2 separate regions of the Homo sapiens genome follow, and region 1 is linked to region 2. Evidence: fine-mapped expression QTL. A gene starts in region 2. The other region holds a variant in brackets. All regions are shown on one strand. Distances are between the middles of the regions.

Evidence for each region.
Region 1: its variant is fine-mapped to the expression of IGBP1 in blood mononuclear cells (TOPMed, PIP 0.98).

The regions. Positions count from the first base shown.
Region 1 is chrX:70,065,105-70,073,538 of GRCh38, reverse strand. No RefSeq gene overlaps it. Among named protein-coding and RNA genes, the nearest start is that of OTUD6A, 6.9 kb to the right of the region's middle. The variant C/T (reference allele first, on the strand shown) is at 4,218.
Region 2 is chrX:70,128,562-70,136,995 of GRCh38, reverse strand. It overlaps IGBP1 (immunoglobulin binding protein 1), which reads right to left and starts at 3,549. Exons shown (of 7, transcript NM_001551.3): 1 at 3,456-3,549; 2 at 2,861-3,273; 3 at 2,180-2,473. The coding sequence starts at 3,048. It also overlaps the pseudogene MTND4P31. RefSeq lists an enhancer at 2,671-3,130.

The DNA of each region.
Region 1 (8,434 bases), 63 kb after region 2:
TGGTCTCGAACTCCTGACCTCGTGGTCCGCCCGCCTTGGCCTCCCAAAGTGCTGGGATTACAGGCATGAGCCATTGCGCCTGGTAATTAACTGCTTTTAATCTATAACTAAGGTCTGAGTCCTGAAGACCTTCCTCTGGAGCCTCAGTAAATTTACTTAATCTAAATGGGTCTAGGTGCTGGGGTGATTACCCTTATCTTGTCTCCTGCTAAATCATGGAGGTTTGGGGAGTTCCCTCAGACCTCCAATAAACTTGTTTGTGGAGGCCTGGGGAGTTTCTTCAGGCCCCTGATAAAACTCTTTTAATCCTAAATAGCTTCCTGTTAAGGATTCCTTCGTTATGGCCGGGCGCAGTGGCTCATGCCGCCTGTAATCCCAGCACTTTGGGAGGCCAAGGTGGGTGGATCACATGAGGTCAGGAGTTCGAGACCAGCCTAACCAATATGGTGAAACTTCGTGTCTACTAAAAATACAAAAATTAGCAGGGTGTGGTGGCGGGCGCCTGTAGTCCCAGCTACTCGGGAGGCTGAGAAAGGAGAATCACTTGAACTTGGGAGGCAGAGGTAGCAGTGAGCCAAGATCGTGCCACTGCATTCCAGCCTGGGTGACAGAGCAAGTCTCCATCTAAAAAAAAAAAAAAAAAATTCCTTCATTATTTTTTCATGGTTTAACTCCCAGGAAAGGCCTAGGCAAAACTCTTGGTGAGCTTTTGTTACATCCCAGCCTTTATATAAGGGCACTGGCTTTTAATACTTAACCACGTCAGTCAGTACTGAAACATTTGTTATGGAGGTCTGTGTTAGTGAGATCTGGCCTGCCACAATATGTATACCCTCAATATATTGCGAGGTCAAAAGCTATGTGCATTTTATTAAGTAGGTTAGGTTTAAATTTTTAATTCATATAGTTCAAAATACCAGAAGTTCAAGAGATTACACAGTGAGAAGCCCCCTCCCATCCTTTCCCCTAGGAACCTGGTTCCCCTCCTCAAAAGTGACCAGTTATATCCTTTTAAATATATATTCTAATCATGTGCAAGGGAAACTGCTAAAAATACAAATGATAGTGGTTTATGCACTTTAAATTTGATAGCTATTGCCAAATAGCCCTCCAAAGAGATTGTACCCATTTATACACCATCCATCAGCAATGTTTGAGAGTGCCTGTTTCTGCATTCCCTCATCAACACAGCATACGAACAAACTTTACTTCTTTGCTAATCTGACTGATGAAACATGGTATCTCATTTAATTTGTAATATTATGAGTAAAACAGATGTTTACTTAAGCTGGGTTACTTCTCCTGCCTCCCTCTTCAGCTTCTTTTCCACAACTCTCTCACAACTACCCTTCAGCTAGGCTGAACAGGAGACACCCGTTCTTTCACTCCTTCTTGTCTCTGCTCTGGTTGTGTTCTCTGGGAGCTCCTGCTAAGCCTCCTGACACAGCAAGTCGGATTCAGTGTCCTTTCTTCCTCTGTGCTTCCTCTCATCACAGCATTGGTCATGTTGCTTTCTGTCTATTTCTGTTTTCCTGTCTGCCACCTCTAGACGGTGAGCACTGGGACTACATCTTTTCTCTCTCTTAAGCTATGGTTTATCACTGTTATCATCGGTAAATATGAAAAGAGTGGATGAATGGATAGCTGACAGTTTCAAACTGAGGTAAAAAAATATAGGTTTTCTGTATCACTGATTAAAAGAGATTCACCTTTTTATAGTATAAGAATGTAATATATATGGAAGGTGGCAATTCAAATCAGTGGTGAAATGGTGGATTATTCAATAAATAGTGTTGAGCTAATTGGTTAACTATCATAATTGAGGAAAATCACTTTATGTCCTTATCTTACACCCATGTAATTTCCAGGTGGATATATTAAATATAAATATAAAGAGAAAGCATTAAAAAATCGAAATAAATTATGCACAAGTATCGATCCATTTTCAGGATAAGGAAGACTTTTCTAAGACTGACACCAAGACAGAAACCATAATGAAAAAGATTAATAGATTTTAAACTTACATTATGATTTTAAACTTACACATATGCAAAAAGAAAGAAACAAAACTGAAAGGCTAATTAATGCACAGGAAAAACTATTTTTTTTTTTTGAGACAGAGTCTGACTCTGTTGCCCAGGGTGGAGTGCAGTGGCACAATCTTGGCTCACTGCAAGCTCTGTCTCCCTGGTTCAAGTGGTTCTCCTGCCTCAGCCTTCTGAGTAGCTGGGATTAGAGGCATGCGCCATCACGCCCAGCTAATTTTTGTATTTTTAGTAGCCAGGATGGTTTCGATCTCCTGACCTCATGATCTGCCTGCCTTGGCCTCCCAAAGTGCTGGGATTACAGGCATGAACCACCACGCCTGGCCAACTATTTTTTAAAATATTCAAATGACAAGTGATCAGATTTATTAATATGGAAGGTCCTATTAAAAATGCAGAAGAAGGCCGGGTGCTGTGGCTCACGCCTGTAATCTTAGCACTTTGGGAGTCTGAGATGGGTGGATCGCCTGAGCTCAGGAGTTCAAGATCAGCCTGGGCAACACGGTGAAACCCTGTCTCTACTAAAATACAAAAAATTAGCCAGGTGTGGTGGCGTGTGCCTGTAATCCCAGCTACTTGAGAGGCTGAGACAGGAGAAACGCTTGAACCCAGGAGGCAGAGGTTGCAGTGAGCCGAGATTGTGCCATTGCACTCCAGCCTGGGCGACAGAGTGAGCCTCTGTCTCAAAAAACAAAAACAAAAACAAACAAACAAACAAAAAAAAGAAAAAGACAAACTTATTCAGAGAAAATTAAGTGAAGTTCAGGAATAGGCAACAAAATAAGAAATATTTGTTCCTGGAAAACAAAATACCGTATGTTCTCACTTATAAGTGGGTGCTAAACTTTGGGTAAACAAGGACCTAAAGATGGATACAATAGACACCTGGGACTACTATGGGGGAGGTGGAGGCGGAAGGGGCGAGGGCTGAAAAACTACCTGTTGACTACTATACTCATTGCCTAGGTGATGGGATCATTTGTACTCCAAACCTAAGTGTCATGCAATATGCCCACATAACAAATCTACACATGTGTCTCCTGAATCTAAAATAAAGTTGAAATTCAAAAAAAGAGAAATACTTATTCCTGCATGAATGAAATAAACACATAGAGGAATATTCAATCTCACTAGTAATCAATGAAACATCCACTAATACAACATTTTTCATCTGACAAATTAGCAACAATGATAATTTTCCGTGTTGGCAATTATGTGGGAATATAACAGCCTCATAGCCTGGGAGTGTAAATTCATGCAGTCTTTCCCAGTACGCATTAAGAGCCCCTCCTTTTTGACCTAGATCACGTCTACAAATCTTATCAAAAGGAAATAATCAGAAATATAGACAAAGATTCAGCTGCAAGGATATTACAGTGGCATATTTATAGTGGTGAGAAATTGAAAGCAATCTAAACGTCCAACAATAAAATTGAATAAATAAATTATGGCACATTCATTGGCTAGAAGGCAGGCTTTAAAATCATCATATTGAAGACTGTTAAGGACACAAGAAAGTGTTTATAATGTATTGTTAAGTTTAAAAGCCAATTTCAATAGAATGACACCAATATTGTTTTTCAAAACATGTGAGTCTATTATGTGTTTGTGTAGAAAAGTCCTGAAAAGAAGAGCCTGAGGAGTTCCTCCATGCAGGTCACCCTGTCCCCAGAGGGGCACTTTTGGTGAGCTCCAGTAGAAGCTCTGATAGCAACAGCTGGGGCAGACAGCCCTGGGAGAGTCTCTGCTTCCCCTGCAGGACCTGTGGGAAGAGGCCAAGTGGCCCCAAAAGTCACTGTAGACAAAATCAAGAAGTGGCTGCTGCCAGAGCCAATAATGTCATGTTCATGGGCTCCTAGATAATATTAATAGTAGCTAACATTTGTTGGGCACTTATTTACTGGACACTTGATATGTATTTTCTTTTCCTTTTTTTTTTTTTTGAGATGGAGTTTCGCTCTTGTTGCCCAGGCTGGAGCGCAATGACGCGATCTCGGCTCACTGCAACCTCTGCCTTGCGGTTTCAAGCGATTCTCCTGCCTCAGCCTCCCAAGTAGCTGGGTCCACAGGCGTGTGCCACCATGCCCAGCTAATTTTTGTATTTTTAGTAGAGATGGGGTTTCATCTTTTTGTTCAGGCTGGTCTCGAACTCCTGGCCTTAAATAATCCACA[C/T]GCCTTGGCCCCCAAAGTGCTGGGATTACAGGTGTGAGCCATCACGCCCGGAGGCATTTTCATTTAATGTTCTTAACATCCTGAAGAAATATCTCTAAGACAAGTATTAATCTCCCTATGTTATCCATGAGGAAACTGAGGCCCAGAAAGTTTAGGTGACTTATCCAAGGTCGCAAAGCTAGGAAGTAGGTGGGCAATTTCGGCTTTAAACCCAGATAGATGTCTGACTCCAGAGCCTAAATTTGCATACAAGAAGCATCTTATTTTTTATTGCTATGGCAAGAGGGGAGAGGGAATGATAATGAATAAATAAAAAACAGTAAGGAAATGAATGAAAGTTGCTTCTGGAATTAGATCCTTTTGAGAACAGTACCCCATGGCTTTCATGAACTTGCCCAGAATAGCCTGTCCTCAGTGACTGTAGTCATTGTTATAGAATGGAACAAACTGCAAATCCCTTGTGTCCTGCCAGATCCCACAGTGGAGACCCCCCTCTTTGTGTTCTGGGCATGGTTAGGATCTGGCCTGGGTTAACACTTCCCTCTCCTTCCTGCTGAAGGCAGACCCAATGGGGGCAGCTGGGGACGGGCCGAGTGAGATCTTAAAGGTTCCCAAAATAGGAATAGCTATTTCTCTTGTATTCAGGGACAAGCCTGTAAAATGGGACTTTACCATCTTTGGTGCCATCTGTCACAGAATTTTTTGGGCTGTACCAGCCCCACCCCCAGCAAGGCTCACATTATCCAGGCAGTGCCCTCTAAAGCAACCTATGCCTCTTCTCCACTTAAGACCCCTGCCCAGCCTATGCCCCCTTTCCCAGCCAGTGCACCCTTCCACAGCTGTGCCCATTCCCCAGCCATCCCCCCATACCCTGTGAACCCCTTGCCTAGCAAGTTCCTCTGCCCCCAGGCAGGTGGCCTCCCCTCTTCAAAAGCCAGGAATCTCTTTTTCATCCTATACCAACTTATACCCTATGCCAACTAGGCTCCCTTCAGCAATGAGTGTCCTTGTCACCAGCCTATTCTCCCTTCCTTGCGCAGCTGCGCTTCCTTAACCTTGCTCCTCAGTCTATTTCCTTTCTAGACCTAGGCCTCCTTTCTCAGGGAGTCCCCCTTCCCCACCCGATCCCCACCCTGTGCTGCCTGCCCTTCTCTCATCAGGAGCCCTGATTCTGCCTGTTCCCTGGAACCCAGTCATGCCCGCTTTCTCAGTCAGGCCACCTCACTTAGCCAGGCCCCCTTCATCCATTTATATACCTTTCCTCCCAGCTAGGCTTCCTTCCCCAGCCAAGGCCACTTCTCCAGTCACGTCACCTTGCCCTGCTAGACATGCTTCCCCTATACCTACTGATACGGCCTCCCCAGTCAGGCCCCATTTCCCAGCCAGTACTGCCTTCTGCAGCAACCCTACCCAGGCTCTCTGCCCCAGCTTGTTGCCCCTCCCCAGCCTGTGCCCCCTGGACAGGTAGGCCTTCTTTGGCAACCAGGCAGACTTCCCGAGCCTGAACTCTTGTCTCTAGCCTGTCCTGGACCATGAAGGAATTCTACCCCAGCCAGAGCCCCTTCTCCTTCCAGGTCCCCTTTGCCCAATATCCCTATCTCCAGGCAGGCTCCACGACCCAACTTTATTTTCCTTGCTTAGCCTATGTCCCCTTGCCCAGGGCCCCTTTCCCCAGCCAGACCCTCTTCCTCAAGCTGTGTCCTCTTTAGATTGGCCCCTTTCTTAGCCATCTGACCAGCCTGTGCGCACCTCTCTGCCCTCTAACCACTTACTGCTGGGTTCCCAGTCTGTGTCTCGGTGGGGCTTCCTCCTCATCCTGTACCCCCAACCAGATGCCCCTCCTTCCTTTCTCTCCCAGGACAGACTCAACCCCAGCCAGAGCCTATTCCCCAACCTCCTTAGCCAGTCTGCCCTTCCCCAGCCCAGGCCTTTTTTCAACTCTATGTCCCCTTCCCACAGCCGGGCACCCATCCCCAGCCTTTCCCCTTTTCAACGGGACCACTTTTCCAAGGAGTTGCCCCTTTGCTGGCCTTTCCCAGCCAGCACCTCCTTCCGCAGTCAGGCATCTTCTCTCAGCTCTCCCTCACCTACCCAGTGGCCTCCCCAGCCATGCAATCTTTCCCACCAGGATCCCTTCACCCACATGTGCCCCGTGCTAAGCCAAGTCTGCTTCCCCGGCTAGGAAAGGGTTCCTAGCCATGCCCCTCCTGCAGCCAAGCTCTCCTCACCCAACGTGCCCTCTGCCCCAGTCTGTGCTCCTTTTTCCAGGCAGGCCTCCTTCCACAGCCTTCGCCTGCCTAGGCCCCTTGTCCAGCCTATTGCCCCTACCCCAGCCAGACCCCATTCCTATCCTGTGTGCCCCTCTACAACTAAGCCCGTTTTCTCAACCACGTGCCCTTCCTCAGCCAAGTTCCTGTCAGGGGGAGAGGCCCTCATTCCCAGGCATGATTTCTTTCCTAGCAAGCTCTCTCCACCTGGTAGGCCCCCTCTCCCAGCCGGGCCCACTAACCTGCCTATGATCCCATCTCTAGCCTATGTCCTTCTCGGTATTCAAACCTTTCCCACCACCAGGTTCCCTTTCCTAGTCTGTGCCTCCCTCCCCAGCCCCTTCCGCTGTCAGAGTCGCTCTCCAGTTAGGCAACCTTTCCCTAAGGGGTCTTTTTACCCCACAATCCTCCCTACCCCACACCCATCTGTCTTCCATAGATTGTGCCAGCCTCTCAAGACTGTGGTCCCTTTACAAGACAGGCACATCCCCATGTCTGGGACCCTTCCTCAGTCTCGCCCTCTCCGCCAATCTATGTCCTTCTCCCCGAGTCTATGTCCTCCTCCCCAGCTTATGCTTACTTTCCTGCTAGATCTCCTTCCCTGGTCCAGTGCCTTCTCCAGCCTGGACTCCACTGGACAGCCCATGTCCCCTCCGCCGGCCAGGCGTTCTTCCCCAGCCTTTCCTCTCATTAACAGCTAGGAACACCTTTCTCATCCTTTGGCTCCTAACTCAACTGGGCCTCCTTCCCTTGACCAGCCAGTTCTTCCCTAACCTGCTCCCCCCACCCCCGCTCACCCTATTATGTCCCTCCCAGCCAGGCTTCCTTCCCCACCCCGTGTCCCAGTCCACAGCCAGGTTCCCTTGCCCAGCCTTGTCCCCTTCCTCTGCCAGTGCCTCCCTAGCCTGTTACCTCTTCCCCAAGATCTTCCTCCTTGCCCTGCCAAGGCCACTCCCATGCTTGGCCCCTTTGGTCACCTAAGCCTGCATCATCAGCCGGGCCACCTTTCCCAGCCAGCATTCCCCCACCCTTGCAGCCAGGTCCCCCCTCCCCCCATCCCAGCCAGGCTTCCTTCTTCAATGACCCCTCCACACCATATGGCACTTCTTCAGCCTGTGTGCCCTCCCCAGTGAGGCTCCCTTCCCTATCCAGGCCCAATTTCCCAATTCCCTTCAATTCCCCTGGCCAGGCAGTTTGCCAGAGCCATTTCCCCATTCAATAGCCAAAGACCCGTTGCTACGAGGCATCTTGTCCCTTTGAGTTGCCCCCTGGTCAGCCTATTCCTCCTTGTATAGACAGTGACTCTTTCTTGACCCAGCCCCCTTTCCTGCCCTTCTCTCCACCCAACTCCACCCCTGCCAGGACCCCTTCCCCAGACTGTAGCCCAGTTCCCAAACAGCTTCCCTTCCCAAGCCAGGCCCCCTTCCTCTCCTTCTCCAGCCTGCCCCAGCTGGGCCACCTTCTCCTACCAGGAACCCTTCACCAGTCCATGCCCCAGCCTCCAGCCTGGACCCTTTGCAGGCATCCTCCCTCAGCCAGGACTTCTTTCCTAGCCTGTGCCCCCGCTACCCAGCTGGGCCTCTTTGTCCATGAAGGTCCCCTACCCTAGCCAGGCCTCTTCTTTTAGCTTGTCACCCCCTTCCCTGACCCTATGCAGCCCACTGAAGTAGAGCACCTTTCCCATTTCTAGAGCCCTTCAGCAGTCTTTGCCCCTGTCCCCAGTCAGCAACCACCACCCCGCCACCCGCAACAGGCCTATGCTCCCTAACCCTCCAGGATTCCTTTGCTTAAGTAGATCCTGGGATATAAACTCTATATGAAGTTAGCTACACAAAAACAGAGAAGCAGGTATTTTTTAAATGGTTTTTATTTTTGAACAAACTACATGTTTAAAAACTTTCAAAAACATATATATTTTATCTTAGAGCATTTGGAATGTAGAAAGAATTT
Region 2 (8,434 bases):
GCGGCTCACACCTGTAATCCCAGCACTTTGGGAGCCCGAGGTGGGTAGATCACCTGAGATCAGGAGTTCGAGACCAGCCTGGCCAGCACGGCAAAACCCCATCTCTACTAAAAATACAAAAACTAGCCGGGCGTGGTGGCAGGTGCCTGTAATCCCAGCTACTTGAGAGGCTGAGGCAGAATTGCTTGAACCCAGGAGGTGGAGGTTGCAGCGAGCCAAGATCACACCATTGCACTCCAGCCTGGGTGACAAGGGTGAAACTCTGTATAATAATAATAATAATAATAATAATAATAAAGAAAAAAGAAACAGAACTCTTCAGTGGATCTCAGTCACCAACCAGAGTAAGCTCTTTGGCGTGTCCTACCTAATAGCAGCTGACATTTACAGAATACTCACCACATGCCAGATATTGTGCTGTTTTATGTGATTTTTCCCATTTGTGCTTATTAACCCTGAGATAGGTACACATGCATCTCAACTTACAATAGGGCTGCATCTCAATAAATCCATCATAAATGGAAAATATGGTAAGTTGAAAACGCATTTAATACACCTTATTGAACATCATAGCTTAGCCTAGTTTACCTTCAACATGCTCAGAACACTTATATTAGCCTACAGTTGGGCAAAATCATCTAACACAAGGCCTATTTTATAATAAAGTGTTGAATAACTCATGTAATTTATTGATGTTCCCCTGACTGTGTATTGCTTCTGCACCAATATAAAGTTAAAAAATTCTAAGACAAGCCATCGCAAATCGGGGACCATCTGTACCATTATTACTTAGATTTCACATATGAGGAAAGCTGAGGCTCAGTTAGGTTAAATAACTTCCCCAAAGTCCAACAGATTATAAGTAAAGCTGGATCTCAAACCCAGGTCTCTGACTCTATGACCCATACTCTTAGCCACAAATAATAATAGTTGACTTTGAGTGTTTACTGTGTCAAACATTGGGCTAACTGCTTTATATATATTTCTCTTTTAATCCTCATAAACTACTTTATGAGGAAGAACCTATTATTATCTGAATTTTGCAGCTGGGGAAATTAAGGTACTGAAAGATTAAATAACTTACCACAAATCACAGTGATTAATCACAGTCGTCGAGCTGGGATTCAAACACCTTACCAAGTTCTCAGCAACAAGTTTCTCTTCACGTTCCTCACATCCCAGGCTCTCCTTGATGTGGACCCTACAACATTCTTCAGTATCATTCCTTCCCCCTTACCACCACCCTCTTTGTGTTCTACCATCACCTAATTGCTCATAGCTGCTGTTTTTGGTCTACACATCTCCACCCACCACTGTTTCTTTAATGCCTCTGTGGCTTTACTAAGGCTTTACATACTCTGCCGGCTAATGCCCTCCTCTCCTCTTCCCCTGGATATTCCTATTTACCCTTAAAGAACTCAGCACAGGAGTCACCTCTTCCAGGGAGCTTTCTCCTCTCTCCTGCTCCCTTTGGTTAGGTGCCCTTCCTGTCTGCTCTCATAGTACCTTGTGCATCCCTCCACAACATCAGTTTATATTGATATTCTGTTTCTATGCCCGTTTTCCTCACCAGATTGTATGCTCCTCCAAGGCAGGGACCACTCATACTCACACAAATACCTATACAGTTTGTATCCCCAGTGCCTAGCATAGTTCCTAGACATCATGACCACCCATTAAATGTTGTTTAAAAAACAAACAACAACAACAAAAAAAACCTAAGAAAGTAAGCAACTTTTCCAAGGTCACACAATGAAGCTGTGCCAGGACTAAGATCAGTTCAGGATGTTACACATCTACTCCAGTAGTCTGAACAGAGCTCCTCAATCAGTGGACCATAAAATGGCCTAGCTTTGCCTTTCAGAGACATCTACCCCACTGTACCATATGAACATTGCTATGATGTGATGTGGAAAAGGTTGGGAGACACTCTGCTAAACTACATTGCTGCTGTTGCCAACCATAAGGTAGTAAGGGTCTGATAAGTAGGTATAATCATCTCAACAAAAGCAGAGGCTTCTTGGAAAAACTCAGGAAAGTTTGCTCTCCCTAGGGCCTATGCTCAATAAGAACCAAGAAAGTGACACATACCATTCTGGCCCCCCACCACCCGCCAAGAAAGCATGCCCCTGAAAAGCACCGCCATTGGGCAGGCCTCATATTATAGCTATTGACCCACCTCTGTATTTTAGCCTGTCTTTGAGATGCCATAGCAACGAGACTAGGATAAGCCATGGAGGAATTGGCAGTGTGATTTTCAGCAGAGTTGTTCATGGTTTTGGGCAGCTCAAACTCTGCCACATGATAGCAATGGCACTGAGTTAAGTAGTTTATAAAGTGTTCTCGAGCCCGCTGCAAATGATCTAGACGCTTGCTGGGGTTGACTTGTTTCATGGTGAGGGCTCCTTGAAACGCTGGCACCAAAAGGTACTTCAGGTCGGTGGAAGCAATCTCTTCCAAATCTTCATTTCGGCTGGAAGAGCAAAAAGGAGGCAGTGAAGCCTGACTAGGCATTCAAATTGTGGCCCTTGCTTTCTGGGGGACGGAGTGGGAGGCTGGGCTGGGAGTGGACCAGAGGGAGGAGGCACGGGGAACAGCGGCCAGTTTCACTCAATGAAAGTGGCTGAGGGCTCACACCCAATGCCTATGCAATCAGCAGACGCTAGGAAGCAGAGTCGTAAGATATCAACCATCTGGGAAGAGAGGTGGGGAATGTAAACAATGTACACAAGATCGCAGTGGTAAGTAGGAACGAAACGTTCTCACCACTAAAGGTCCCCTCCACTCAGGCGCAATGGCTCCACCCTTGGTAACCATTATTACCTTCGTTCTCAGCCATTATTACTATCTTCCCCCATACCTGAACAAGTCGAGCTGCGATAACATTTCGGCAGCCTTCTCAAGGAGGTCCAAGCCCTTGAACACCTTCTCCTGGACTATCCGGGAACCGGCGGGTTCAGTCGCCACTTCTACTTCGTCCAGTAACTGTCTACCAGTTTCGAACAGCTCGGGGAGCCGCGGCAGCTGTAACTCGTCCTCAGCAGCCATCTTGGGGAGAGAGGAACCCGGAAGATCTCTTTTCCGGGGTCAAAGGCAACCTTGATAAAGAAGAATTAGGCGAGCGCGGACAAAACCGGAAGAAGCACCTCATTGGTCCAGTAGCTTCACTGTTAACAAAGCATCAAAGGACTTCCGGGAGCCGCTGTTAGCCGGCCCTGGCAACCGTTTCCATAGACTCATTTTACCAGGCAGCCCGTTACAAGTCGTAGGCATCTGTTAAAAGCAAACAAACAAGCAAAACCCTAGGCGCTGTTTTACCATGAGCTCCTCGTCGCCGACACGGGGCTGAGAAGTTCTGTGGGCTCTGAAGCCCGGGTGAGGCGAGGCTGAATTCGGAGCGCGAGGAGTGCGGACGAGCGAGTGCGTTTTAGGAGCCAGTCTGGCGCGCCCCTTACCTCGCGAGTAGCTCCCTAGGTTGAGGAGTCCAGGGACTCTAGCCGCCGCACCACTCCCACGGTTTGAAGATCCGGTCGCTTGAGCGCGAAGTGCAAGTAGCGCCCCCCTGCGGTTTCCGTCCACCCACCAGATGGAGCTCCGGGTTCCTCCCAGCCAATCCTCTCCCGTCCTCTTCCCCCTTCACCCCACACACGCCTACGACCCGTAGGCCGGCGTCCGGTGGAGCCCCCCTCAGCAAGATTGGCAACCTGCAACTCCGGTCACCGCACAGCCGGCTTCCCTTCGTGCACTTAGTTCCTACATCAAATGTTATTTCTGTGCAACCTTCCTTGTCTCTCTACCGCCTTCCACCCTGTGCCCTTCAGCCGCCAAGTCTGGGTTTCTCCTATGCATCTCTATCATGGCACCTACCACGCTGTATAATTGCTAGTGACTTACAAATCTCTCTTATCAGAATGAATTTGACTCATCTTTGCACCACTCTGGCTAGCCTGAGTACTCAGTATCAGTCATTATCTGAATAAAAAAAAAAAGTGATCAGTTTGGAAAGCAGCCAACTTATGCAGAACAGCATTGTTCAGTAGGTAGTTACTAGCTACATGTGGTTACTAAGCACTTGAAAGTGGCTATTTTGAATCGAGATGTGCTGCAAGTGTAAAAAACACCCCAGATTTCAAAGACATTTAAAAAAAAAAGAATGAAAAATGTAAATACTTTTTACATGGACTACATGTTGAAATGATAGTCTTTTGGATATGTTGGATTAAATATATTATTAGAATTAATTGTACTTCTTTCTTTTCACTTTGTAAATGTGCCTGCCAGATAATTTAAAACTATATTTGTAGCTCCCATTATATTTCTACTGGACAGAACTGATGGAAAACATAATTTCAGGACTTCAAAGAAGGGACGTCATTGTTTTGAACAAAGCAATATAAATACATACTGATTACCTTAGGACGCAGCCTGAATTGTCCTAGGAGATTTAAGTAGCAGGCACACTGTCTACCCCTGAAAATAAACTTTTAAACTAGTATTTTAAACTACATATCGTTGAGAAGAAAAAAAGCTTCATTAAAAAACAACTAGAGGGCAATATAGGACAGTATAAAATAGGTGATATGTTGTATTGCACAGGCTGTTGGAAAAGCAAGAAAGGGCAAGTCATCCCATGCTAGGAGTAGTTCAGAAGGCTTCTTAGACATGACATGCGGTCACATAGAAGAATGTCAAAGTTTAAAGGGAACCCCCAAAATCGGAGGAAAAACTTGAGACCAGAAAGGTTAAGGGACTTGTCCAGCCAGTTTGTGACAAAGTCAGTGACTTCTGCGTTCAATTGTTTCTACTCCATTAACCTTCAGTTGGGTAGGATTTAGAAAGATGAAGACCTTTAATGTGGGACAGATTGAAGCCCCAAACTAGAACAGTGCTTCCTAAGAGGGAGAGGAGGCTGTGGCACACATGTAGGTTGAAAAAGCTTCCCAGGTGATTCTAATAAACCTTCCCTTGCAACCCCTGCTTTATAAACTAAGAAGGAAGTGAGGCTTTGGCGAATTACCTATTTGGTTTATCTGGCACCTCTAGTAAACTGACCTTTCAGGGTCAGGCTTGGCAGGGAATATAAAGAAAAAGATAGTACTTGTGGAGGAGACTTAGAAATGTAGTAATTGTGAGAGTAAAGATAATTTGCTTCTCTGCATTTGCTTGGATTAAAACATGTCTTTACTGTTACTTAAGAGGAAAAAAATGTGCACAGTCTTAATTTGGTCTTAAACTTTGTAAGTCATTTTTTATGGCTTTCAAAATTAGTCTTTTTTTTTTTTTTTTTTTGAGACAGGGTCTCACTCTGCCACCCAGGCTGGAGTGCTGGAATGCATTGGCACGATCTTAGCTCACTGCAAACTCCGCCTCCTGGACTCAAGTGATCCTCTACCCTCAAGCCCCCCAATTAGCTGGGACTACAGGTGCAAGTCACCACTCCTGGCTAATTTTTGTATTTTTTTGTAGAGGCGGGGTTTCGCCATGTTGCCCAGGCTGATCTCAAACTCCTGAGGTCAAGTGATCCACCCGCTTCACCGTCCCAAAGTGTTGGGATTACAGACGTGATTCAGTGTGCCCAGCCAAAATGACGGTCTTTATGGGAGATGCCAATTACTTTCAGAGTGCCTGTTATATATTAGAGTTGTCATTTTAAGCATTGCATTTCATCTTATTCTGAAAGAATACCAAGATTAAAAAGTGGTTAGAAAAAAAGGAATAATGGCCGGGCGTGGTGGCTCATGCCTGTGATCCCAGCACTTTGGGAGGCCGAGGTGGGCAGCTCACCTGAGGTCAGGAGTTCAAGACCAGCCTGGCCAACATGGTGAAACCCTGTCTCTACTAAACATACAAAAATTAGCTGGGCATGGTGGCGCGGGCCTGTAACCCCAGCTACTCCGGAGGCTGAGGCAGTGAGCCGGGAGGCAGAGGCTGCAGCGAGCCGAGATCACACCACTGCACTCCAGCCTGGGCGACAGAGCGAGACTCTGTCTCACAAAAAAGAAAGAAAAAAAGGAATAATAAAAACGAGTCGTTTGCTGTGTTTTGTGTGTAAACACTTTATCATATTAAACTCCTGTTGTGCATGGGAGACTTTTTAAAATCCTAGTTTAGGGCACTTAACAATCATGAAAGTATAACGGTACTTAAACTTTTTGTAGTAGCATAATTCTTTTTCCAAAACAAGTTTTAGAGAGCCTGTAATTTCTAAAAGGACTGATGTATTTGAAGAGGATACAAAGAAGCCTGCCAACTCAGCCACTGGCCCATCTTCCTCAACCTGCTCAGTGAGTGGCACTCCAGGTGAGGGACTCAAGGGCTCTAAGTAACACAATATAAAAAGCATTAATCTGGCCAGGTGCAGTGGCTCCCGCCTGTAATCCCAACACTTTGGGAGGCTGAGGTGGGAGGATCCCTTTAGCCCAACTCTGCTACTGAATAGCTGTGGGACCTTGGAGAAATTCCTTCCTTTGCTCTTTCCATACATGCTGTGTGCTACCTGAATGCTAGGCATTGAGAATTCGAACACTACCCGAGGTTTAAGCTCTTAAGGGGTCCATAGTTCCACGGAAGAGACAGGTAAACAAATAATCAAATGTTAATTTGATAAATATTTTGATAAAGGTGTGTTCAAGGTGTTAGAGGAATGGAGAGAATAACTTTGGCCCGGAGGGGCATTCTGTTAAAGGTCAAACTCAATAACATGACTTTAAGATCCTTTCTAATCTGCCTGCTGACATCCTTTTCATTTTGTTCCTTCGTGGATCCTAAGCTGAATCTTTAGCAAACTCTCCTAGTTCTCCAAACCTATCATGTTCTCTTAGGCCTTCATGCATTCACATAGGTGGTACCTTCTGCCTGGAATGTCATCTTCCTTGTCTGTGCCTGGCAAATTTCTATTCATTACTCATAACTTGGCTCAAAGATCACTTGCTCTGGGAAGCACTTCCTGATTTTCCCCTGTAGGCGAGGCTACCTCCTTCTTAGCTCTTATAGCATTTGATTCATCCCCCTGTGATAGTACTGTACTGTGGTTATCTTTATCCACACCTGTCTCTCACTAAACTGAGAGCTCTTTAAGGCCAGGGAGAGTGTCTTACTCATCTTTGTTCACTCTAGCACAGAACCTGCCACCCAGTAGGTAGGAGAGACTCAATGTTAAATGAATAACTTTGTATCATAATAATACCTAACCTTCTCTGAGCGCTCACATCCTGCCAAGTGACTATGCTAAGTACTTTACATGTGAAGGAGTTCAGGAGATGCCATCCCAAAATATGCCACTTTGGTATGCTGATTATTTGAACCAAGGGCACTTGGGGAACAGTGGATACAGGCAGAGGCTGTCTCTGAGCTCCCCTTATCTGCCTAAAGCTGGCTCCTCCAAAAGGAATGTAATTGTCATGAATCCCCTCTCTAGGAATCTTACCAACCAGGGAAGATTAACTTGGATCACAGGAGAGGAGATCGGAGGCTGACACCACACCCAGACAATCACCTATTCTTCTGAGAGCTGCTTTGAGAGAAGTTTTATTACCTGAAAGACTTTTTATCTGCATAACAAGACAACCTCTGTTACCACACATTTCCTTCCCTTGCTCTCCCATAACTCTTGTGTTGCCACCAGCCCCCAGGAAGCCCCAAGCCCCTATTCCTTTCTGTAGTTCAGGATGCTGTGTAAGCTTCAATTGAAACAATCCCTATAAACTTCATAAAATTAATCAGGGAAGAAGGGAGGGAGAGAAAAAAAATAAACCAAACTCGCAGCAAATTCAGCTTCATGCTGAATTCATGAGGTCAGCTTGCCCTCTGACCTGATTCCTCATAGTTGTTTGCTGCCTACTGCTTCAAAATCATGTAGACCCTGTTACAAGATTATAGTTCCCCTTAACTGTTCTATATCTCATTGCCTATTCTTCTGTAAGCAGCCACATGGCACTTTTTACTGTAGCCATCCTCATCCAAATACCCTGAAGTTTTATGGGTGCAGTTGTCCTAATAATTGCCCATGGACTCACATCATCTATACTGTTTTGCCTTGCAAACTCAAATTATGAACGAATCCATAGTTGAACAATACTATTAGCCTGATGATAGCAGCAGGAGGCAGACAAATCCCTAGGCAGACAGGGGCGGGTCCCCTGTGAAACCTGACCTTCAAACCAAAGACAGTTTAAAGTCTGAAAACCAAGCTACAAGTCTCGAATAAATCCACAGACCGGATTGAGAACCTCTCTTCCTGTTTGGCGTGCTTTCCTCTGATTGATCCCCACCCTTCACCTATTTTACATATACCTACCCTTCCCTAATTAGTTTTTTACACCGTTGTGCCCATCTTTGAGTGGTGTCTTTTTTTTAGCCTTTTTTTTGCACACTCAAACTAATCAGCACACACTTCCCCATTCTGAGTCCATAAAAGCCCCAGACTCATTCACAC